2 linked regions of the Homo sapiens genome follow. The protein of the gene in region 2 purifies or fractionates together with the protein of the main gene of each other region. This does not show direct contact. Each region holds a gene or a part of one and is shown on either strand. Other genes may lie near its edges.

What was found.
Region 1: the proteins of EPHX1 (region 2) and MFSD8 purify together in Homo sapiens (affinity purification with mass spectrometry; 3 studies listed by BioGRID and IntAct, with this or other methods). This does not show direct contact.

Annotation. Positions count from the first base shown.
Region 1 is NC_000004.12:127,939,419-127,949,626, forward strand, and holds part of MFSD8 (major facilitator superfamily domain-containing protein 8), read right to left. Parts: intron 4,575-10,208; coding exon 4,334-4,574; intron 2,741-4,333; coding exon 2,627-2,740; coding exon of another isoform or gene 2,621-2,626; intron 580-2,620; coding exon 435-579; intron 1-434. UniProt on the Homo sapiens protein: Outward-rectifying chloride channel involved in endolysosomal chloride homeostasis, membrane fusion and function. Conducts chloride currents up to hundreds of picoamperes.
Region 2 is NC_000001.11:225,821,548-225,837,773, reverse strand, and holds part of EPHX1 (epoxide hydrolase 1), read right to left. Parts: intron 13,564-16,226; exon of another isoform or gene 13,471-13,563; intron 12,421-13,470; exon of another isoform or gene 12,230-12,420; intron 9,050-12,229; 5' UTR 9,045-9,049; coding exon 8,862-9,044; intron 5,996-8,861; coding exon 5,815-5,995; intron 1-5,814. UniProt on the Homo sapiens protein: Biotransformation enzyme that catalyzes the hydrolysis of arene and aliphatic epoxides to less reactive and more water soluble dihydrodiols by the trans addition of water.

The sequences.
Region 1 (10,208 bases), on a different chromosome or scaffold from region 2:
AGTTCAAGATCAGCCTGGCCAACATGGTGAAACAAAAATTAGCTGGATGTGTTGGCATGCACCTGTAGCCCCAGCTACTCGGGAAGCTGAGGTATGAGAATCCTTGAATCCGGGAGATGGAGGTTGCATTGAGCCGAGATAGTGCCACTGCCCTCCAGTCTGAGCAACAGAGTAAGATCTTGTCTCAAAAAAAAAAAAAAAAAAAAAAAAAAAACTTTGAATCTTCAAAGACCTTCCTTTTCTGTTCTCATTTATCAGGTTGTCTTTTGGTTGCCAGTATTACATGCTTTAGTACTACCTGACCAAAAAATATAAACAAACTATAGACATAAAAAACTACGTACACTTCATAAGGATAATTATCTTCCAACAATTACAAAGCTCATTAAATTTCACAATCTACAAAAATAGTTTTATCATTTCTATCTAATTACCTTAGTATGGCAAGGATCAGAATAATATTTAAAATTCCCAGGAAGGCGCTAAGTAAAACTGGTGTTGTATACATGTTTATCTGCAGTTTAATCACATCCCATGTCACACCTTTTTCTCCAAGGAATGTAAAACAAGTCTGAAAAACTTATTAAGATAAAATTTTCACAGATGAATTATTATATGAGAAGCATAGGATAAAAAAATGAAAAAGACATTTACAACAGAATTGGGAACAATGTTATGGAATCATCCTTCTATATCATGCATTCTCAACAGATGGAATTGGTTCTTGATGGGGGGTCAAAAAATTTCCTCTTTTTATGTATAAAGCAGGTATGTACAGATATACATATGGTACATAAAAGATATATGACACATCTGTGGCACTAAAATTTTATGGGGTAAAGAGAGTAGGAAAAAAATACCGAAAAAGGCTCCTTAGGGAGACAATAATGAAAAAAAGGTTGTGAAACACTGATTTACATGCATTCACAAGGAATTGTATCTTACATAACTTCTCAGTTTTTTACAAAACATCTCCATAGGCAATTTAAATTATACAATTTCTTCCAAAAATTAATTATAAAGGTTTAATCAGCTTCATTATAAGAATGAAAATATCATATTTTAGACCAGATATCTTAAATATTATTCTGTATATGGTATATATATATATATATATATATGTGTGTGTGTGTATATATTTATTATCATTTGACCATAGTATTATATACAAGTAAAATGAAAAAAAAAAATTATTTCATCCAAAAGCATACATAATCCACCTTAGTATTTGAAGTTTTTTTTAGTGATTTTAAACATTAGTTAGAAGTGTTTTTGGACTGCTGGATAAAGCACTCTAAAGAAATATGAAGTGGCAAAATCTAATTTGGATCTGTGGCAAAAACTCAATTGGAAGAGTACTGGTTTGCTCTTCTGATTTAGATTCAATATGTGGCTCTATAGTAATTCACATATAACTCTAGGGTGAGGACTAAAATATTGCACCTACCGTACTTAGAACAGTGACTAGCATACAGTAAGCACACAATAAATGTTAGTGCTTGTTGAGGGCTTATTATTGGAAAAGTCATCGAAGCTTTTCAGGCTTACATTTACTCATCTATAATGCAAAATTTTTAAATGACATAATCTTTAAAATGCTTTTAAGGTGGTAAAAAATATTTACTAAGAACATAAGTCTATACCAGGTATTATGCTAGATACTGAGGGTAGACTGGTAAATAAAGACTCAAACCATGTCCTCATGTACTTTACAATATAGTATTCAAGTTCAATTATTCTACATTTGTGCTTGTATTTGTTTCAGGGTACAAAACTGAAATAGTAGATTTTGGTGAACAGTGAATTAGATTCCCTTCTGTTGAGCCTTTTCTTTTTGGCTAAATAGAGGAACGTAATGGAAACTGGGGGTGGGAGATGGGGTGTTAATGATGAAGTAAGCTGAGTTGGATTCAAACTGATAATATTCATAACTTCAATATTCAAAATATGGACCAATTATATGGTTTTTCAATATTATTCTAGGCATGAAAATGACTGATTCTTTACTCAGCAGAAAATTAATTTGCCTTGAGGAAATACTAAATCTCATTAATTTTTTTTGAGACAGAGTCTCGCGCTTGTTGCCCAAGCTGGAGTGCAATGATGTGATCTCAGCTCACTGCAACCTCTGCCTCCGAGTTCAAGCGATTCCCCTGCCTCAGCCTCCCAAGTAGCTGGGATTACAGGTGCCCGCCACCACACCTGGCTAATTTTTGTATTTTTAGTAGAGATGGGGTTTCACCATGTTGGCCAGGCTGGTCTCAAACTCCTGACCTCAGGTGATCTGCCTTCCACAGACCCCCAAAGTGCTGAGATTACAGGTGTGGACCACCACGCATGGCCTCACTAATTTTTTTAACACTCAGCAAAAGGGTGACCTTGGACAATTTACTTAGATTCTCTATGCACTGGCACTCTCAACTATAAAAGGGGACTAATAGCACTTAATTTAGTGGATTGGCATCAAGATAAAATGAGTGTAGCCTCATTCCTGGATTAAAAAAAAAATTAGCTTTCCTCCCTTTCCCTTCAGCTATGAGTTTTTATACTTGGGTTACACTGAATATTTAAGCCTCAAAAGTTTTCCCAATTCAAATTCAAGTAATGACATGTGAAGAACACCTACCTGGACCTAGAATAAAACCTAATGCTTGACACATGCTTATGTTTGCCATGGAACTTGTTCTTTCCTGAAGGGAAGTAGCACCAGCAGTATATGATCTAACAACTGCTACATTTCCTTAAAAACAAGACACAATAATCCAAAGTAAAAGAAAGTATCATTCAGCTTATAAAATTCAATCCAATTTGACTTTATACAGAAGAAGAAATCTTGGTCAACAGTACAGTCACTGCTTCCTCTTTATGATCACACAAAGCATGTAAGGTATTTTTATTAAGCAAATGCATCAATTAATGGACCATACTAGTTTTGGTAATATGAAAACAGTTAAAGATATCAATGAGTGAAAAAATGGTATCATAAGAAAACCAAGCCGGGCACAGTGGCTCACATCTGTAACCCCAGCACTTTCAGAGGTTGAGGTAGGTGGATCATTTTGAGGTCAGGAGTTCAAGACCAGCCTGGCCAACACGGTGAAACCCCGTCTCTATTAAAAATTCAAAAATTATCCACCTGTAGTCCCAACTACTCAGGAGGCTGAGGCAGAAGAACTGCTTGAACCCAGGATGCTGAGGTTGCAATGAGCCAAGATCACGCCACTGCACTCTAGCCTGGGCAACAGTGAAAAAAAAAAAAAAAGAATATCAAACTTACTTAGTACTAAAAAAGCACTGAGTGAATGGCATACCATTGATTACTACAACTGTTTTTAAAAGAAAAGTATTACAATATTACAAACTCTGTATGCATAGACATGTAATATAAGAAACAGAAAAAAATGCACTAACAATTTTACTGAAAATTTTCATTGAGTACATTACATTCAAGAGACTCTGTTAGGGGGCATAGGATATTTTTAAAGTATCATTAATTCTTTCTAATTGCAAAAAGTTTAGGTTGGGAATGGTGGCTCATGCCTGTAATCCCAGCACTTTGGGAGGCCGAGGCGAGTGGATCACGAGGTCAGGAGTTCAAGACCAGCCTGGCCAAGATGGTGAAACTGCGTCTCTACTAAAAATACAAAAATTAGCCAGGTGCAGTGGCAGACGCCTGTAATCCCAGCTACTCGGGAGGCTGAGGCAGGAGAATTGCTTGAACCCAGGCAGGTAGAGGATGCAGTGAGCCAAGATTGCGCCACTGCATTCCAGTCTGGGTGACAGAGTAAGACTCCGTTTCAAAAAAAAAAAAAAATTATTATCTGGTTAGTGAGAAAGGATAGAAACAGTACAATACTATAAGCAAGTGCCAGAGACATGTCAGAGAAGAAAAAAATCTCTCAAGGGGCAGGGTAGCCCAAGATGGCTTTGTGGAAAATGTGGAGCTTGAATTGGATCTATTTTTGTTTTGGGTTTTTTTTTTTTTAGATGGAGGTCTCCCTATGTTACCCAGGCTGGCCTCGAACTCCTGGGCTCAAGAGATTCTGCTACCTCAGTCTCCTGAGTAGCTGGTATTATAGGCACGTGCCACCACACCTGGTTTAAACTGAATCTTGAAGGATGAAGAATGATGAGAACAGAAGAGAAACTATAGGTAATGAGAACATCATGAGCAAAGGCAAAATGATAAGAAAAATATTTGTTTACAATGAGAAACATGTATGTTGAACTGTGAAATATGAGTTTAAAAGGGGATGAGACCAGTTAAAAGTGAGCCATAAATGTCAGAATGAATGTGAATATGACACAACCAAACATATACATACAACCTTACCTGCTCCAATTCCCAACAATCCACGAGCAACCAGCATGTAGTATTTATTATGAGAAGCTGGGATGTGGAGATATGCATAGAGGCAGTTGGCTGCCACGGAAATCAAGATGGAGACAATAAGAGGCTCTTTTCTTGGTCTATAATTAGACCATAAACCAAATATAGGTGAAGCTACCATTTGGCCAAGACTATATGAAGCAATAACCCAGCCCAAAAAACTTGTATCAGCTGTCGGATCAATCTGCAGAAAAAGGTACAGTGCTTTAAGAATTGTTATCCAAGAAAAGTTTAAAACTAAATACATTTGTCATACCATGTAAGATTTCCTATCAAAAAATAAAAACAATTCTAACGTATAAGTTTTATAACACTATTACTTATAGTAAGGGATTCAAACTTCTGACAATACAATTAAATGTGCTAACAATAGACTGTACACAAGGGAAAAATGCTTGGGAGGCTCATTTTTAAGAATGACTGGAAATTTTTGGTTCATATAAACCTTGGTAAGAAGATAATCACACACACTATATACGCATATAGCAATAACATCATGAAAAATAATATAAGCTATTCTTTAATTCTTGTAAATAGAATTCTTTAGACTTATGCTACCCTATACGTTAAACAGCCATTAGCGCTGTAAATCATTTTTTTTAAAAAAACTAGGCACAAGAGTCAAATGCATAAAGAAGATAATAAAAACACAAAAGATGATAGACAATTATCTCAATAAACCTGTTATAAATTCTTCCGTTCTATATAGACCACTCAGTATTCTACCACTTTAAAAGGGTTTACATATCATGATGAACTTAAGGGGAGAACCAAATGACTACAACTCAGAAAATAAAATACTTTCAGAAAAATAGAAAATGTTAGCTTAGAAAAGGCACTATTGTTTATTTTTATTTTTATTTTTTTTTTGAGACAGGGTCTCACTCTGACATCCAGGCTGGAGCGCAGTGGTCCGATCACGGCTCAGTGCAGCCTCGACCTTTGAGGCCCAAGTGATCCTCCTGCCTCAGCCTCTTGAGTAGCCAGGACTACAGGTATGCACCACCATGCCCACCTAATTTTTTTATTTTTGTAGAGACAGGGTCTCCCTATGTTGCCCAGGCTGGTCTTGAACTTCCCGCCTCCAACTCTCAAAGCAATCCTCCTGCCGCGGGAGGGAGGAATTCTCCCACCTTGGCCTCCCAAAATATTGGGATTAGTGGCATGAGCCACCGCACTCAGCCAGATTACTTTTTTTCATATGTGGTAGGCTAAGCCAGGCGAAGTGGCCCATGCCTGTAATCTCAGCTACTCAGCAGTCTAGAGTAGAAGGATCCCTTGAGCCCAGGAGTTGGAGGCTGTAACACACTATGACTGTACCTGTGAAAAGCCACTGCACTCCAGTCTGGGCAACATAGGAAGATTCTATCTCTAATCTTCCTATTTAATGGCTTTTATTAAATTTTAGGAAATAAATTTAAACAAATATAGATAAGTGGTAGAACAATTTAATAAGGAAAACTATGACCTTTTGTTCCCTAAAGATATTTATTTATTTATTTTATTTTATTTATTTATTTACTTTTGAGACGGAGTTTTGATCTTGTTGCCCAGGCTGGGGTGCAATGGTGCGATCTCAGGTCACTACAACCTCTACCTCCCAGGTTCAAGCGATTCTCCTGCCTCAGCCTCCCAAGTAGCTGAGATTACAGGCATGTGCCACCACGTGGGCACAGCTAATTTTTATATTTTTTTTAGTAGCGACGCGGTTTCACCATGTTGGCCAGGCTGATCTCTTAACTCCTGACCTCAGGTGAGCTGCCTGCCTTGGCCTCCCAAAGTGCTGGGATTGTTGGTGTGAGCCACCGTGCCTGGTAATTCCCTAAAGATATTTAAAGTGAAAATATTTAGGTGCGTTTTTCTTTATGAAAAAAATAAGAAATAATATGCAAAAGTATAATGATACATAATATTTAAAGTTCTAGCCGTTAAAATATCTTTCATTTTAGGTACTCTGGTTTTCATTTTCTTCCTGTATTACCTTTAGCTTCATTTGTCATCTCTACTAAAATAGAAAATAATAATTTCATGTTACATAAAATTTTAATTTTCAAAAAAGCAATGAAAACTCAATTTTAATGTTAAATGTGTAGTGGTTTGAAAGCAAAACTTTTTTTTTTTTTTTTTTCTGAGACAGGGTCTGGCTCTGTCACCCAGGCCAGAATACAGTGGCATAATCTTGGCTCACTGTAACCTCAAACTCCTTTGCTCAAGAAATCCTCCCAACTCAGGCTCCCAAGCAGCTGGGACTACAGGGAGTAGCACCACCATACCCAGATAACTTTTTAAATTTTTTTGTAGAGACGAGGTCTTATATCGTTACCCAGGCTGGTCTTGAACTCTTGGGCTCAAGCAATCCTCCCAACTTGGCCTCCCAAAGCGCTGGGATTACAGGCACGTGAGTCACAGCACTGGGCCTGATAGCAAGACTCTTTAAAGAGTTTTCAAAATATCTGGAGAAAAGAGAGTACTTTTCAAAACTCAACATAGTATGCTGAGTAGACCTAATCACTACTAATATCCTTCTTTTGAGAATTTTGACTAAAAAGACTAAATGCCAAGAAATTAAGAATTTTGATACATGAAAATATCTTTTTAGTAGAGAAGACGTTGCTCCAGAATTGTGCCAATTCCAATGACTACCAGCATGGAAAGAATTTTTAGTGTAATGGGTAATAATTTCATGTAATATTATTTTCAAAATAGCAATGAAAATATGGCACTAAACCAGTAAAAAGTAAAATTTGTATTTCTTTTCTTCTTATATTCCTTTAAAAATATATTTTAGGAGAGCATTTTCAAAAAGTAGAAATTCGTAAAAACTGGGCTGGGCATGGTGGCTCACACTTGTAATGCCAGCACTTTGAGAGGCTGAGGTGGTGGGTCACCCAAGGTCAGGAGTTTGAGACCAGCCTGGTCAACACAGTGAAACCCTGTCTCTACTAAAAATACAAAAATTAGCTGGGCGTGGTGGTGCACGACTGTAATCCCAGCTACTTGGGAGGCTGAGGCAGGAGAATCACTTGAACCTTGGAGGTGGAGGCTGCAGTGAGCCAAGATTGCATCACTGACCTCGAGCCTGGGTGACAGAGCGAGACTCCATTTACAAAAAAAACCACAAAAATTAAAAAAAAAAACAATCCTAACAATCTAGACAATCTAGTAGGGGAGTTAAGTAAACTCTCTGTAAATACAGTGTTAGGACACTCCATATTAAGGGCTAATGATAAAGGGAAACGGGAGTATACAGGAAAAGCTTCTGACCCAAATTGTTGTGAGGGACAGTGAGAGAAGCCTTTCCAGGCCAGGTGCAGTGGCTCACATCTGTAACCCCAGCAACTGGGGAGGCTGAGGCAGGATCACCTGAGGTCAGGCGTTCGAGATCAGCCTAGCCAACATGCCGAAAACCCACTTCTACTAAAATTATAAAAATTAGCCAGGAATGGTGGCGGGTGCCTGTAATCCCAGCTACTTGGAAGGCTGAGGCATGTGAATCGCTTGAACCCAGGAGGTGGAAATCCCAGCACTTTGGGAGGCCGAGGTGGGTGGACCACCTGAGGTCAGGTAGAGATCAGCCTGGCCGGTATGGTGAAACCCCGTCTCTACTAAAAATACAAAAATTAGCCGGGTGTGGTAGCTGGCGTCTGTAGTCCCAGCTACTTGGGAGACTGAGGCAGGAGAATCGCTTGAACCCTTAAGGCAGAGATTGCAGCGCACCAAGATCACGCCACTGCATGCCAGCCAGGGCAACAGAGCAAGACTCCATTGCAAAAAAAAAAAAAAAAACAGAGAGAGAGAGAAGGCTTTCCAGAGGAGGTGACACTGGAGCAAAACCTTGAAGAGTGAATAAAAGACAGTGAGGAAGGAGAAAGGGGAGAGCAAAAGAAAGATGGAGAGAGGAAAAGCATTCCAGTAAAAAGGGAGACAAATGTGTAAAGACCTGAGGAGCCTGGGTTCATCCAAGTACCATGGATTTATCTAATAAATTGTTGGCTATACATCTAATATGGGACAAAGTTCAGAATCTAGGATAAAACACACATATGCACGTGTGAACACACACACACACACACACACACACACACACACACTCTCTCTCCAACCTCATAGAAAAACCAACAAGGGATAAACTGATAAGGAAGAATACACAAAAGAATTTAAGAATAAGTCATTAGAGTTAAGAGGAAAGCCAGGATAGAGAAATGTCACAGAAGCTAAGAGGTGGTGCCATGGTTTGAATGTGTCCCCCAAATTTCATTTTTTGGAAATTAATATTTAAATTAATATTATTAAAATATTGAAAGGTAGGACCTTTAAGAAGTGACTGTGTTACATTAGGTAGCTAGTTGGGTATGAACAGGGCAGGAGAGGTCTCCCCTGCCCCTCACATGGGGAGTGTGGAGAGACTGTTAGGTGATGGTCAGGCGGTTGTTAACGCTCTCTAAAGTAATTATTGGTCACAGCTAGTGCTAGGAAAAGGCAGCCTCCTAATAAATAGAAAACACCTGGTAATTAGCAGCTTCCTGATACGATCTCAGGGGTGGGGTGAGTGGGGAGAAGTAATGCAAGACCCCAAAATTATGCCAGTGTATGAAATCCCAAGTCAAAAGGTCAAACCGCAGGCTTGTCTTTCAAGTTGCCCACTTGGCCCTCTTCCAAGTGTACTTTCCTTCTTTTCCTTCCTTTCATTCTTGCTCTAAAGCTTTTTAATAAATTTTAACTCCTGCTCTACAACTTGCCTCAGTTTCTCCTTCTGCATTATGTCCTTTACTTGAATTATTTCTTTCAGGAGGCAAGAATTGAGGTTGCTGCAGACCTGTACAGACACAGATCTGCCAACTAACAATTGGATCATGAAGGCTGTGCCCTCATGAATGAATCCATTTATGTATTAATGGGTTATCATGGAGTGGAACTGGTGGCTTTATAAGAGAAGGAAGAGAGACCTGAGCTAGCATGCTCAGCCCCTTCATCATGTGATGCCCTACACTGTCTTGGGACTCTTCGGAGAGTCCCCACCAGCAAGAAGGCCCTCACCAGATGTGGTCTCTCAAACTAGGACTTCTCAGCCTCTGTAACGGTAAGAAATAAATTCCTTTTTTAAAATAAATTATCTGGTTTAGGGTATTCTGTTATAAGCAACAGAAAACAGACTAATACAGGTGGTTTCAGGAAGTAAGGAGAGGACAACAATGTCAAATCCTATCCAGGTGTCACCTAAAATAAGGACTGAAAAGTATTTCGTGATCAACAATTAAGTAATTGGAAACCTTACAAGAGCAGTTTCAGGACAGCAGAAAAGTTAATCAGATAGCAGTAGGTTAAGGAGTAGGTTAGGAAATACAGAGGAACTCTTTAAGAACCTTTACTAAAACATTGTTATAGATGAATTATGTAACCAACTTATATACTGATTTTTAGTTAAGTTTCTTCCTGGAGATTTAAGATAGAACTGACAGGACCTGATGATCAACTGATGTTAAGCTACCTAACAAACTTACATATTCATGTCACCCCCTCTTCCCCTTCTAGTAATAACAGCATCAAAAAATACATATGTTCTAGTCTTTACAATGTTACCTGATAGCCCAAATTAATTTTATGGGAAAAGCGTTAAATTATTCCACAAAAATATCATTTACACACTTTAGGAATTCAGACTATTACTAGTTTCCTTTTTATTAGGGAAGAGGTAATGATGGAATATGAATGTGGCTTCTGAGTAGGTGACCATACATCTACCTTTGCCTGGGACTATCTGGGTATGATCCTATTTTTCCTTACGTAGCAGTCTCTTCACTACAAAAGTGTTCTGGCT
Region 2 (16,226 bases):
CTGAGGCGGGTGGATCACCTAAGGTCAGGAGCTCAAGACCAGCCTGGCCAACATGGTGAAACCCCGTCTCTACTAAAAATACAAAAAAATTACCCGGGCATGCTGACAGGCGCCTGCAATTCCAGCTACTCGGGAGGCTGAGGCAAGAGAATCGCTTGAACCTGGGAAGCAGAGGTTGCACTGAGCCGAGATCACACCACCACACTCCAGCCTGGGCAACAGAGCAAGACTCCATCTCAAAAAATTAAAATAAAATAAAGTGGAAGATTTTTTTTTAAGTGCAATGCTGAAAACATCATCATAGCCAAGGGCAGGTGAATGGATTCTTGTCTCCTCTGGACTGACTTGGGGCCTCTGCATATCAAAAGAAGGCAGCCCCTTCCCAGGCCAGTGCCCTGGACAGCACCTGGGGCCTTACGGCATTCACAGTGAGGGCGGCTGCCATGCTTGGAACTCTCTGCCACCAGGGCTGGTGCAGTCAGCATGGTCTAGCTAATGTTCTGTTCTGTCGTTAATATATTATACAAATAATACATGTTTACTGTAGAAAACTTAGAAAACACAGATAAGCCAAAGGGGGAAGACTCACATGTAATCCCACTCTCTAAAGAAAACATGGTGTTGTCTGTCTAAACTTTATTTTGGAACAGTTTTAGATTGCTGAAAAACTGCAAAGAATCCAGAAAACTCCCATATACCTCACACCCACCGGGTTTCCTCCATTATTAATATTTTATGTTAGCATGGTACATTTATTACAATTAACGAACCAGACTGAGATATTATTAACTATAAAGTCCATTGATTTCCTTAGTGTTTACACTTTTTATTATATGGCGAGAACACTTAATATGGGTCCTACCCTTTTAACAGATTGTAAGTGTCCAACACTGACGGCGCTCTGCTGTACAGCCCATCTCTAGGATGTATTCGGCTGGCAGGACTCAAACTTTACACAGCAACGATCAGCAATGCCGTTTCCCCTATTCCCCAGCCCCTGACAACCACCCTTCTCCTCTCTGCTTCTGCTGAGTTTGACTATTTCAGATTCCTTCTATAGGTGGAATCATGCGGTATTTGTCCTGTCCCTGGCTTACTTCACTTAGCATTATTTCCTCAGAGTTTATTCATGTTGTCACACATTGCAGGATTTCCTTTTTTTTTCTTCTTCTTTTAGAGATGAGGTCTCACTGTGTTGCCCAGGCTGAAGTGCAGTGGCACAATCACGGCTCACTGCAGCCTCAACCTCCCAGGCTCAAGTGATCCTCCCACCTCAGCCTCTCAAGTAGCTGGGACTACAGGTGGGCAACACCATGTCTAGCCTATTTTTGTTATTTTTTTTTGTAGAGAAGGGGTCTCGCTATGTTGCCCAGGCTGGTCTCAAACTACTGGGCTCAAGCCATCCTCCCACCTTGGCCTCTCAAAGTGTTGGGATTACTGGCGTGAGCCACCACACCCGGCCAGGATTTTCTCCTTTTTAAAACCTGGATAATGCTGGTATCTACACACAACAAAATATGAGCCAGATTTCCTCAGTTTTTCCCCTGATATCCATTTTCTGTTCCAGGATCCCATCCAGGACTCACACACCACTGAGCTGTCATGTCTCTTTAGACCCTTCTTGGCTGTGACAGTTCAAACTTTTTAAAAAGACTTAGAGAACATAACTTTTAACAAAAATAGAACCATACATACATTCTATTTTAGAATCTCTTTTTTTTTAACTTAACAATGTATCCTGGGTGTCCTCCTATGTTGCCAAATTTACTCCTATTCTAAAGGACCAAGGCCAAGAACAGGCCTCCAGCCCCGGGCAGGGTGCCAGAACCACACATGGGTAAGTCCACGATGAATTCAATGCTGGAAACTGGCTCTTTTGGAGCCGTTGTACCTGAGGGAGGTTTTGTACCATAAATGCCCAATGTCAGCTGGGTGTGGTGGCTCACACCTATAATCCTGATACTTTGGGAAGCCAAGGTGGGAGAATTGCTTGAGCCCAGGAGTTTGCGATCAGCCTGGGTGACATGGTGAGACCTTGTCTCTACTAAAAATGTAAAAAAAAAAAAAAAGGAAAGAAAAAACAAAGGCCGGGTGCCGTGGCTCATACCTGTAATCCCAGCACTTTGGGAGGCTGAGGCAGGTGGATCACGAGGTCAGGCGATCAAGATCATCCTGGCTAACACGGTGAAACCCCGTCTCTACTAAAAATACAAAAAATTAGCTGGGCATGGTGGCGGGCGCCTGTAGTCCCAGCTACTCGGGAGGCTGAGGCAGGAGAATGGCGTGAACCTGGGAGGCGGAGCTTGCAGTGAGTCGAGATTGCGTCACTGCACTCCAGCCTGGGTGACAGAGCGAGACTCCGTCTCAAGAAAAAAAAAAAAAAAAAAAAAAGCCTAGTGTGGTGGTGCATACCTGTGGTCCCAGCTACTTGAGAGGCTGAGGTGGGAGGATCGCTTGAGCTCAGGAAATTGAGGCTGCAATGAACTGTGATCACACCACTGCACTCCAGCCTGGCTGACAGAGTGAGACCCTGTCTCTAAAAAAAACCCAGTCTCATGAAGAACCCTGAAAGGGTCCAGTGGGGTAAGGCTGGCAGCTGCCAGGATGGAAAGGGCCCTTTACTGCCTCCTGCCTCTGGGCCTTTGAACATGCTGTTCCCCTTTCTTGGACCACCTTCCCCACACACCTGGCAAAGTCCCACTCATTTCAGCTTAGATGCCACCTCCTCCAGGAAGCCTTCCCTCACATTCAAAGGAAGATTGTGGGGCTCATGAAGCTCCCAGAGCCTCCTCCTTCAGAACACCGCCACTATGTGCTGGAATTGCCCCTGAAGAGCCTATGAGCTGTGAAGGAGGGACCCTGTCCTCTCTATGCGTCCCCAGCCCCAGCAGAATGCCTGGGTACAGCAGGCGCCCTGTTAGTTTCTGCTGGATGGACACTGAAGAGCTGGGACAACACAGGGATCCAAGTCAAACTCAAGGAAGCCAGGCAATTTCGTGCCAGGAATCCAAACAGGAACCTATGGTAATTGCATACAGCAGTTTGGCTGGGATTAAGTGGCTTGGATCCTCTTGTTAGGCTCATAATAGAAGATATCAAATTACTGTAAAGAATACAGCAACACTCAAGAGAAGTCCAAATTTGATCCAAAAAATCATTCCAGATTTTTTTTTTTTTTTTTTTTAGTGTTCTTGGCTGAGCTCCAGGATGGGCTCTAGTTCCAGGACACACACCACTGGGATTTGACTTAGCTTTTCTCTGGCTCATTCTCCCACAGGCCTGGCCTGCTTGCATCAGAACAAGGATGTTTGCTGCCCTGGCACCTCCAAGTCGAGGTTTCCGTCCATCCTTCCTTTCTCCCTTTTTTTTTGAGATGGAGTCTTGCTCTGTTGCCAGGCTGGAGTGCAGTGGCGCGATCTCGGCTCACTGCAACCTCCGCCTCCCTGGTTCAAGCAATTCTTTTGCCTCAGCCTCCCGAGTAGCTGGAACTACAGGCACGTGCCACCATGCCCAGCTAATTTTTGTATTTTTAGTAGAGACGGGGTTTCACCATGTTGGCCAGGATGGTCTCGATCTCTTGACCTTGGGATCCACCCGCCTCGGCCTCCCACAGTGCTAGGATTACAGGTGTGAGCCACCGCACCCGGCTTTTTTTTTTTTTCTTTTTTTTTTTTTTGAGACAGAGTCTTGCCCTGTCACCCAGGCTGGAGTGCAGTGGCGCAATCTGGGCTCACTGCAAGCTCCGCCTTCCGGGTTCACGCTATTCTTCTGCCTCAGCCTCCCAAGTAGCTGGGACCACAGGCGCCTGCCACCACGCCCGGCTAATTTTTTGTATTTTTAGTAGAGACGGGGTTTCACCAAGTTAGACCAGGATGGTCTCGATCTCCTGACCTTGTGATCTGCCCGCCTTGACCTCCCAAAGTGCTGGGATTACAGGCGTGAGCCACGGCGCCCAGCCTGTTTTTTTTTTTTTTTTTTAAAGACAGAGTCTCATTCTGTCGCCCAGGCTGGAGTGCAGTGGTGTGATCTCAGCTCACCACAAGCTCCATCTCCTGGGTTCACGCCATTCTCCTGCCTCATCCTCCCGAGTAGCTGGGACTACAGGCACCCGCCACCACACCTGGCTAATTTTTTGTATTTTTATTAGAGACAGGATTTCACCGTGTTAGCTACGATGGTCTCAACCTCCTGACCTCGTGATCCACCTGCCTCAGCCTCCCAAAGTGCTGGGATTACAGGCGTGCGCCACCGTGCCCAGCCTCTCTCTCTTTTTTTAAGAGATGGGGTCTTGATCTGTCACCCAGTGCAGTGGTGTCCTTGTAGCTCACTGCAGCCTTGAATTCCTGGGCTCAAGCAATCCTCCTGCCTCAGCCTCCTGAGTAGCTGGGACTACAGGTGCATGCCACCACACCCAGTTAACACTATAATTTCAATTTCCTTTTTTTAGGAACTTTAGTTTATCTGACTGACCAACATGTCTTTCATACACTTTAAGTAATTCCTAGAATTTTAACAAATTAAAATCTTCACTGTTCCTTGAAAAGGCCAAATTATCTTAAAACATTAAAAATAAGATTCCTAACATGTACAATTTCTTCAATATAAAAAATTAACAAGCTGGGCACAGTGGTGCTCGCCTATAGTACCAGCTATTCAGGAGGTCTGAGGCGAGAGGATTGCTTGAGCCCAGGAGTTCGAGGCTGTGGTGAGCCATGATCACGCCTGTGAATAGCCGCTGCACTCCAGCCTGAGCAACACAGCAAGACCTTGTCTCTGAAAAAGATTAATTGTATGGCAACCCACAGAGTGGGAGAAAACATTTGCAAATATAAGAGATTTTATTCAGAATATATAGAGAACTCCTAAACCCTAATAAAACACCCAAAAAATGGACAAAAGACATGAACAGACATTTCTTCGGAGAAATTACAAAGAATCCAATAAGTACCGCATAAAAAATGCTCAACATCAGTAATCATTAGGAAAATGCAACTCAAAACCACAATGTGATACCATTTCATACCCATTAGGATGACCATTACCGAAAAAAAGAAAGGAAAAAAATATTGGCAAGGATTTGGAGAATCGGGATTCTGAGGCATTGTTGGGTGGGAAAGTAAAATGGTGCAGCTGCTGCGGAACGCAGTATGGCGGTTCCTCAGAAAATTAAACGCAGAATTACCGTATGATCCAACAAGTCCACTTCTGAGTATAGATCCAAAAGAACTGAGAGCAGAGTCTTTTCTTTCTTTGAGATGGAGCCCAGGCTGGAGTGCAGTGGCGCGATCTTGGCTCACTGCAACCTCCGCCTCCTGGCTTCAAGCAATTCTCTGCTTCAGCCTCCAGAGTAGCTGGGATTACAGCTGCCTGCCAACACACCTGGCTATTTTTTGTATTTCTAGTAGAGATGGGATTTCACCATCTTGGCCAGGCTGCTTGAACTCTTGACCTCGTGATCTACCCACCTCAGCCTCCCAAAGTGCTGGGATTACAGTTCTGAGCCACCCCACTTGGCCTGGGTCTAAATCTCATCTCCATCCTTCCTCTCAAAGATTGCCACATCATTGGACTGGATGGTGCATTTCTTTGGTTTTTAAATTGCATGTATGTGTTCCTGCCTAGCTCTAAAGATGGACAGATTTGTTGTGACTGCAATATTTTTGCATTTAGTAAGGTTACAACGTATAAGTACATCTCAGTCACCTATAATTGGGTTCTGAATCTCTCCAACTTTATCTGACTGTAAGTCACATTGTGGAAGAAGGCTGTTCTCATGACATACATCCCTCTCTGGCTGGCGTTTTGCAAACATACCTTCAATCTTAGTCTTGAAGTGAGGGTATCTGTTGAGAATCTCCACCTGCTTCTTCCAGTCAAATTCATTCCGCCAGTAGGAGATGACTTTCTTCAGGTAGTTGGAGTTGAAGCCATAGTGGAAGCAGCTGTCCTCCAAAGGTGGGGTGAAACGGAACTTATCGATCCTCTGGTGTAAGTCCTGGAGCAAAATTCAGGACCCCAAGTTGAGAGGGATGGGAAGGACAGAGCACAAGAGCAAAGTCTGTTTCCAGAAAACACAGCAAACCCTGCAGCCACAAGATACTGCCCTCTGGGAGTGGCAAGGCAGTTTCCCACATCACTGGCTACTCCCAAAGCGGATGTGTTCTTCACTTCTTCCTTCTTCACTGTAGACTTCGCATTTCTTTTTTCTTTTTTCTTTTTTTTTTTTTGAGATAGGGTCTCACTCTGTTGCCCAGGCTGGAGGGCAGTGGCGTGATCTCGGCCCACTGCAACCCCCACCTCCCAGGTTCAAGCCAGTCATGCCTCAGCTCCCAGAGTAGCTGGGATTACAGGTGTGAGCCACCATGTCCGGCTAATTTTTGCATTTTTAGTAGAGACGGGGTTTTGCCATGTTGGCCAGGCTGGTCTTGAACTCCTGGCTTCAAGTGATCTGTCTGCCTTGGCCTCCCAAAGTGGTGGGATTACAGGTGTAAGCCACTGCGCCCAGCTCATCTTTTACTCTTTAAGTGTATACACGATACTCATCTTTAATTTACCCAGGCGTCTCTACAGCGGGAGTCGGCAAACTTTTTCTGTAAAGGGCCAGATAGTAAATATTCTAGGCTTTGCAGGCTGCAGTGACTCCACTGTCTTCATAGTGTGAAAGCAGCCACAGCCAATGCACAGATGAATGGGGGTGGCTGTGTTCCAATAAAACTTTATTTATGGACAGCCATAGCCAATGCACAGATGAATGGGGGTGGCTGTGTTCCAATAAAAATTTATGGACACTGAAATCTGACTGCTATATAATTTTCACGTCACAAACTATTATTCTTCTTTTGATTTTTTTCCCCCTAACTATTTAAAGAGGTAAACACTATTCTTGGCATGGGCGCTGTGCTAAAACAGGTAGCAGGCTACATTTGGTCTATGGGCCTGGTTTCCTGACCCCTGATATACAACATTGAATGATACATTATAACTGAGTTGGGATAAAAATTACAGGCCAGGCCCAGCACGGTGGTTCACGCCTGTAATCCCAGTGCTTTGGGAGGCCAAGGCAGGTGGATCACTTGAAGTCAGGAGTTCGAGACCAGCCTGGCCAACATGGCGAAACCCCATCTCTACTAAAAATACAAAAATTAGCCAGGCATGGTGACAGGTGCCTGTAATGCCAGCTACTTGGGAGGCTGAGGCAGGAGAATCGCTTGAACCCAGGAGGCGGAGGTTGCAGTGAGCCAAGATCGCACCACTGCACCCCAGCCTGGTGACAGAGCAAGACCCTGTCTCCAAAAACTAAAAAATTTACAGACCAGGAGAGAGGGTGCAAGTCTCATTGGCATGTATTAGGCTAAAAGGCCAGCCCCAGAGGGAGGAAGTTCATGTCAGCTTAGAGAGCCTCTCAAGCATCACCATTCCCAGGCTTCTTCCCAAGTGTTTCAGTTACCCCCAAACAGATTTTGGAAATCTCAGACTCCCTTAGGAGTCTAATTCCCTAAAGGAGCTTTCCTTAGGGCTCAGCCTTGGCCCTAAATAGCAAGGCTGCAGCAAGCAAGTCCTACCCAGGGAGCCTCAGCCTGGTTGCTCTTGGGTTTAGCCCAGCTTCTGCTTTTAAATCTCTTCCTCCTTGGAACTCTCATGACTTTTATCCATGCTTTTTGTGACATTTATCCTTATGCATCTGTTTCTTTTTTTGAGATGGCATTTCACTCTTGTTGCCCAGGCTAGAGTGCAGTGGTGTGATCTTGGCTCACTGCAGCCTCTGCCTCCTGGGTTCAAGGGATTCTCCTGCCTCAGCCTCCCGAGTAGCTGGGATTATTATAGGTGCCCGCCACTATGCCCGGCTAATTTTTTGTATTTTTAGTAGAGACGGGGTTTCACGATGTTGGCCAGGCTGGTCTTGAACTCCTGACCTCAGGTGATCCACCGCCTCAGCCTCCTAAAGTGCTGGGATTAAAAGCGTGAGCCACCGCACCTAGCCTATCTTTATTTATCTTTTAGTCTACTTTTCTTTGTGCACATTCCTTTTCTCATTCACTGGACTGTATGCTGTTGGACGGAAGGGGCTGTCTCTTCTCCCAAGCACTCACTGGGCCTGCACACAGTAGGTGCTCAAAACCCACGGAATGAAAGAAAGGATTGGCAGGGCCATGCCAGGCCTGCCTACCGTCCTGTCCCCCACTCAAGCCTTGCTCCTCCCCGAGAATGCATTCTCAGTTCACCCCACCTGCCCAGTCACCTCCTTCCTGACTCTATCCCTGTGCAGAGGAGGGGCAGCAGCTTCAGGATTAGATTGGACTTCAAATCCTTCCGCATGTTAGCTAGGCCGCCTTGAACGAGTTGCTTTATGCCCCTGAGCTTCAGCTTCTGCATCTGCAGTTTGGGAACAACAATCCTCACCCCGCGGGATCACCGTAGGGATTGAATGTGACCAGGAATGGCTGACACACAGCCGGTGCCTAACCAGTAGCATCCCTGCCTTCTCAGTGCTTCCTGGGTCTCTGACGGGAACCTGCTCACTTTCTCCCACAACCTCACTCCCAAGGCTTCAGGCAGGGCATAGAGGAGGTGATGACAGCTGCTTTCTGTGACCTTTGATACAGGTTACCCCATCTCCTGCCTGAGCACTGCTGGGCCTTGGGTAGGGAAAGGAGAAGAGAGAAAGTGGGAGGGCTGGGCATCCCTCTCCAAAGCAACCTGCACCTGCCCAGCAGAGGAAAAGCAGACTGAAACACACTCCCAAGTAGGATGGACCATTCCCAAGCCCCCGTCCCCTCCCGCATCTGGCCTAAGACCCAACCCCTGTCTTCGACACACCACCCTCTCCACTGCCCAGCCCGGCCCGGCCCAAGGTGCCTTACGTGGATCTCCTCATCTGACGTTTCCACCTTGAAAGGGCGGATGCTGTCGTCCTCCCTGGCTGCGGACCTCGTGCCTGGCCCCCACCACCCATCTTCAAGTGGCAAAGTTTCCTCTTTGTCCCGGGAGATGAACCAGTAGATGGCAAAGCCCAGCACTGAAGTGAGGAGGATTTCTAGCCACATGGCTCCTGCAAGATGAGGGGAAGCCATTAACAACGGAGCCCGCCCAGCCCGGCCCTGACAGCCCAGAGACTCTGATCCCCAGCAGGCTCTTTCCTGCTGCGCTCCAACCCTGTCCCTGATTTTATTTACACTTGACCTAATATATACATATTATATATATATATACACACACTATATACATATTATATATAGTATAAATATTATATATATATGATCTAGAAAAATGGAAAAACAACAGACAATGAGACAAAATCACCCACAATCCTACTAAGCTTTGAAAACTGTTCATCATCCTGGGAAAATAGGAACCTGGTTTGGCTTCTGCACAGCCCTGGGTAGGGGGTTTTGGGAGCTACATTTCTGAGGCCTCATGTTGTTTTTTTTTTTGAGATGGAGTTTCACTGTGTCACCAGGCTGGAGTGCAGTGGCACAATCTCAGCTCATTGCAACCTTTGCCTCCCAGGTTCCCACCATTCTCCTGCCTCAGCCTCCCGAGTAGCTGGGACTACAGGCACGTGCCACCACACCCAGCTAATTTTTGTATTTTTAGTAGAGATGGGGTTTCACCATGTTAGCCAGGATGGTCTCAATCTCTTGACCTCGTGATCCGCCCGCCTCGGCCTCCCAAAGTGCTGGGATTACAGGTGTGAGCCACGGCGCCCGACAGCCTCATGTTTTTTGCATGTCTGAGAAGGCTTCTGTCCATGACCTCTGGGTTCCCTCCCCCAGGGGAGAGGAGCACCTTTCCTGAATGGTGGCCCACAGCCCCTGCTCTGTCCTTCTTGGAGAGAGGCTTATCCTCAGGGCAGACGGGGTAATGGGGAGGCCCAAGTGCTGGGAGAGTAAGTTCAATTTGGGGTTGGGGGACACTGCTAGGAAGCCCAGCCATGGCCACACAGCTTAGCTGTGTAAGAGCTTTATTGAAACATAATTCATATACCATACAATTCGCCCATTTAAAGTGAACCCTCCAGTGGTTTCTAGGATATTCACAGACATGTGCAGCCATAGCCACAGTCAACTGTAGAACATTTTCATCGGCACGGAGAAACTCCATACCCTTCAGCTGTCGCTCCCCTACTGCCCTCCACGTTAGGTCCTAAGCAGCCTCTAATCTACTTTCTGTGTCCATAGTGTTGCCTGTTACATTTCACATCAACTCAGTTGTCTTTTAATCCCCATTTGTCTGACTCCTGTGTCTTTTTTGATCAGAAGAGGAAGAAACCATAGTCTTGGCAAAGCACTATCAGGCAGATACCAGCCCAGCATTGTTATCTAGCTCTTCATCTTCCTCATTCCTAGGGAAGTAACCCATAGACTGTTCTTGTTCAGAGTAACCTGCATGAATATGCGGGCCGTCCTTATGCCTGAGTCAGAGGAGGGTCTCTAGATGCACTGCAGTTAGGACCCAGACGGAGGAGAAAGCATCGAGTTCTGACAAGGCCCCTGCAAACCACGCCCCAGCAGCGCCCCTCGCTCTGTCTTGGAAACCCAAGGCAGGAGGTGGTCCCTGCTGGGAACCCCACCACTTGCATGTCCTCCATTGGCTACATGTCAGATGTTTGGGACTCTGCTGGGGGGTTGCAGAGGCCCTGGAGTTTGCTCCTGTCAAGAGCTGCCCCTCTAAACCTAGAATTGGGCTACTGGGGGTCGTTCTATGAAATACTTGTCCACAGTGGTCCAGCGATAGAGCTCCAAACAGAAATCCACCCAGGGCGATGGCTCTCGCCTTATTCCTGCAGTTCTGTAGGAAATCTAATCAGGAAAATCAGCTTGGCACCCCCCACCTCCGCGTTTCTATCAGTGATCCCAGTGAACTCCCAGCTTCCCACCCTCAGGCCCTAGAGTCATCTCCAATTCTTTCCCCACAGCCCATCACCAAGTCCTCATGCCATCAGATTCAGCCCCCTGTGTGCCTCGCCCCCTCCCCTGGACCAGAGCCCTTATCACCCCACATGTGATTATGGAGACAGCTTTCAAGAGAGGAAACCCACAACCTCTTCTCTCATAGTCACCAGCATACTTCTTAGAACCGACTGCAGCCTTCGTCCTGGGAATCATGCCCAGGTGTCCACCCTTGAACTTCCAATCTATCTCCCTCTCTGGATTGTGAAACTCTAAAGTGCCTCAAGGTCTCACTGATCAACATTTACTCAGTCTACCATGTGCCAGGGGGCAGGCCTTCGCTATCCCTGCTGGAGACACGTGGGACACGTTGATGCATGTTCCATCTCCAGCCAAGCCAGGCCATTGCTTTCCCTTTTTTTTTTTTTTTTTTTTTTGAGACAGAGTCTCAAAGAGTGCAGTGGTGCGATCTCGGCTCACTGCAACTTCTGTCCCTGGGTTCAAGAGATTCTCGTGCCTCAGACTCCTGAGTAGCTGTGATTACAGGTGCATACCACCACCTCCTGCTAATTTTTGTATTTTTAGTAAAGACAGCGTTTCACCATGTTGGCCAGGCTGGTCTCAAACTCCTGACCTCCAGCGATCCGCCCACCTCGGCTTTCCAAAGTGATGAGATTAGAGGCACGAGCTGCTGTGCCTGGCCCTGTGGCTTTCATCTTTCAATCCCAAGCAGTAACAGTGCCTGGGCCCCAAGGACCCTATGTCAGCTGATCAGATGGGCAGCTGGGACCACACTCCCACAATAAAAACAAGGCAGGGAATACCTGGAAATGAGTTCCTCTTATTTAAGTAATTCAGAAAAGAAAAAACATGCATCAGCTTCTTTCATTTCCAGAAAGACGTTATGTCTCTGCCAGGAAATCCTGCCCTTTAAGAAGATGGAGAAAAGTCAGCTAAAAGCCCCTGCGGTATTGAAAGCAGGACTAGGGGTTAGGGACTGGGAGACACATGGGAGCGTGTGGGAGGCAGCCGAAGGCAGAGAGCAGAGCTTCCCCCAGCAACAGGAGCAGCTGAACACACTTCACTGGGCAGGCAGATCCTACCACAATAAACCATAGCTTGGGAAGGCAGGGCTGTGCCCGTCCTGGGCACTGCCTTGACCCACAGTGCCCAGCACTGGTGACTGGCCCAGCACAGCGAAGAGCTCCACCAATATTTTATGCACTAGAAGCTAGTAAGACACATTTTGCATGATGTTGTCAAGGAGGCTGCGAGCATAATATTAGAACAATAAAGAGGGATCACCCTCCCCAGTGAACTTTACAAACCACCCTCCTTACCTGTACCTCAGCACAGGGAGAAGCACTGCTGTCGCTTCCCTCTAGGATATAAATGTGCAACTTTCCCCTTTCTGGGCAGAAAGATCCCAGTGCTTTCACCTGTCCACCAGGCTCCACGTTCTCACCCTCTGATTACTCCTTGGGAAAGAGAGCTGTGGAGCTCTGCACCTGGCGATGCTCTAAGGGCCTGTGAGAGAGGCAGGGCAGGCTGCAGGCACTGGCCCCCACTCCCCACGGCCTTCTGACAATTGCACAGTCCTGCCAAGTCAGCCAATCTCATGTGTGCACAGCGTGGTTATCTCCCCTGGACTCTGCACAGCAAACTGAACCACGCTGACCTGAGAGATACAGGGCTGAAATGATCAGTGCTCGAGTCCCATCTAAAAGAAGGGAATCTGGGACAAGGGGCATTATGATGGCCCCCACCAGCACTACCAGGTGTATCACCCAGGAAGAGGAGGGCAAAGTGACAGATTCAAAGAGAATTTTAAAAACACGATCTCTTGCATTCTAATTAAGATAACAAGAATATTAGTACTTGCTTGGCTCAAGGATGGTGCCTTACAGCCACTGATCTCAGATTACAAATAGGCTCTACTGCAGTGTGTTACTTTGCCACCTAGTAACAGCCCTTTATTTAATAGCAGGTGGTTAATGCACCAAAGAAAAGTGTTCTTGATTAGCCTGGTGTGACAGCAGGTGTTGACTGTGTGGGGGTGGGTTTCCAACCCCGCTGCCGCCTTGCGCTCCCACATGAACAGTCCTTCTTCTTGCTGCAGGCAATATTCACTTCCACCAGCCCAAGCCCAAGGAGCCCACCCTGGGGAGGACGGAGGGGGTCACCACGGCTCCACACCCCCCCGTCTGCTTTGTCGGAGAGCTGGCCAGGCAGAGTGGCGCCCTCTTGACTGAGCCTCAAACCTTTGCTTTCCTCTTACTCCAAATAAAGCCGCCTGGCGAAGGAGCTCGGAGGCCTGATGGCAGCCTGCTGGGCGCTTGACAATTCCTAGACCCTGGTAAATGTAATCCATGGTACATGCAAATCCACCCACTAAAGAGCCACAACTCATCAAACTTGACTTTCCTTTTCACTTATTTAAGGCAAGAATCGGAGTAGGCAAGGGGCTTAGCCTAAATCACACTGCAGTTGTGAGGATTAGAATCTGTGGCCACAGCACTCACTCCTGGTCTGTCACTGGGTGTGTTGCACCCCAACTCCCCTTCTTGTTCCCTCTCAGCACCTGTTTGCAGCCTTGAGTCTTCAGGCCAGAAGGGACTCCTAGGGCACAGACGTCTCCCAGGCCTGCATAGCTTTTCTCAAAAAATGTAATAATAAGAAACAACACCCTCCCCTATCTGGTGGGTCAGCCAGTCCTGGGAAGGACTGCGGGGGCGGCGGGGGTGGGCGGTCTTAGAGTCTGACCAATGAGTCCAGGCACCCACTCTCTATCTGCCTAACCCTGCCCACACATTCTGCTGCAGTTCGAGACAGGGAGAATTGCAGATGCCCACCGCCCAGGCAGGGAGGATCTAGAGAGTGCCAGGCACCCAGCAGGCTGTCCTCAGGCCTCTGGGCTCCCTCGCCAGGGCTGCGGCTTTATGTGGAGTAAGGGGAAAGCAAAGGCTCGAGGCTCAGTCAAGAGGGCACCACTCTGCCTGGCCAGATCTCCGACAAAGCATGGGGGTGTGGAGCCGTGGAGACTCCCTCTGTCCTCCCCAGGGTGGACTTCTTGGGGTTGGGCTGGTGAAAGCGAACATCGCCCAGAGTGAGAAGGACTGCTCACGCAGGAACCCAAGGCGGCAGAGGACCTGGGGTGGGCTGGGGAGGGGGTGGCACTAAGCAGATGAGAACCCTCCCCTCCCTCTCATGGCCTCCCTCTCTCATGGCCACCCAGCACTCAAGAGGACAGAGCAGGGCTGCATCACCCCTACATCCACCGGGTGGGCCAGTTGATAAGTCACTGCCACTGGGCATGGAAGCTGGAGAGGAACTCAGCAGCCTCGAGTCCAAACCCCTGCTCTACAGCCAGGGAAAGAGGGGGCCGAGTGACTGAGTCTGGGGAAGCTTGATGGCCAACTTGGGTGATGCCATTTAAGGAGCCAGCCTGGGTTTCCCGGAGACTCCCCATCCCATGGCTCCCTGCAAAACAGCAACTCTGACAACCTTTGACTTTAGAAATGAAAACATCTTGGAGGTTACAATACGAGGGCTTTGGCCCAGTGTGGTAGCTCATGACTGTAATCCCAGTACTTCGTGGGGCCAAGGTGGTGAATCACTTGTGGCCAGGAATTCAATATCAGCCTGGGCAACATAGCAAGACCCTCATCTTAAAAAAAAAAAAAAGTAATAAAGGGGCTGCTTGTTTGCTTTCCTCTTTGGGTCGTTCAAATCTCGGCTCCACTGTTTACTAGTTGAGGGGCTCTGGGCAAGTTATGAAACCTCTCTAAGCTCAGTAGCTGCATCTGTAAAATGGGGATAATAATGTTGAACTACTTATTATCAACATGTGTGTTCCTTCCTCTTCCCCTAAATCCCTAATTACCGTGGAGCATCTCTGCCTTGTAACAGACCCCAGAGGAGCCCCTGTTCTTGTTATTTAGCCCACACCCCAAGGTCCCGCTGCAGCCGTGTGCACATAAACAGGCTGGACGTGAGGGAGTGCATGGCGTCAGGCACCGTGGTCTGGCAGCATCTGCTCTCCTCTCCATGTGCCTTCACCAAGGACATGATTTGGGAGGATGACCAAAGCACAAGGCTATGTACATCTTCGGGTATCAGCATTTTGCAAGATATGTCCCTGGGGTAATCTCCACCCCTCTTTTCCATCTGTTCGGAGAAGGTGCATTCTCAGCATCAAGGGGCAGAATTCTGGTGGCTAAGCCTTCACCTTTCCAAGGAGAGCTATATTTATCTCTTCCCTGTGGTCAGCTCCTGCTGATGTAGCAAACATTAGAACTTCTTCAAAACATCAAAGTTTAGGAGACACCATGAAAAACTGAGAAGTAAAACAATACAAAATGAGAGTGCCTGCTTTATTTTGCTAGCACCTGAAATCAGAGCTTCATTGATCTGCCTCAAAAGTTCCAGAGATATATTTTATCTGATTCGAGTTTTTGTTTTGTAATGCACTTTTCCAGAATACTGACAAGTTACTGGGCTGAGAGTTTGTGCAGGAGGGGGTTGGAGGGGAAGCCTTTCAGAATGAAATCATTTTTTTCTCGAAGCCAAGGTACTCTTCCCAACAAAATGGTTCACTTGCCTAGTAAAGAAAATACAATTTTTGTTGCAAACCAGCATGATTTTTTTTAAAAACGTGACTGGAAGATAGTGGTCATTTAGCTACAAGATACTGAGCTCAGAGGGGAACTTGATGAACATTTGGCTCCTACTGTAAGAAATGGGATTGCATACATTTTAATTCCAATTCTACACTGAAGTCAAATTTTGGGCATGCATTTGTGAAAGGTGGAAGAAAATCTCACTAAGTTCAAGGTGAAGAAGTTAGATGAGCAATCAATGGTCTTTACCCTTCAAAGATGGACTAAATGTAAACTGTTAGAAAACAACAAATGATACAAGTAGAGTACTTGTTAGTTTACTTGTGTTTATCTTTCTGGATCTGAGGTATAAAGGACCATTTTAAATACAGGAGAGCAAATAAAGTAGGTGCTTTGTTCTTTGGCACAGTTAAAAGGTAAATCACCTGTAATCCCAGCACTTTGGGAGGCCAACGCAGGTAGATTACTTGAGCCCAGGAGTTTGAGACCAGCCTGGGCAACATGGCAAAACCCCATCTCCACAAATAATAAAAAAAAATTAGCCAGGCATGGTGGTGCATGCCTGAGGTCCCAGCTACTCGGGAGGCTGAAGTGGGAAGATTGCTTGAGCCCAGGTGGTTGAGGCTGCAGTGAGCTATGATCACTGCACTCCAGCCTGAGAGGAAGAACCTGTCTCAAAAAAAAAAAAAAAAAAAAAAAAGAACCAAAAAATGAAAAA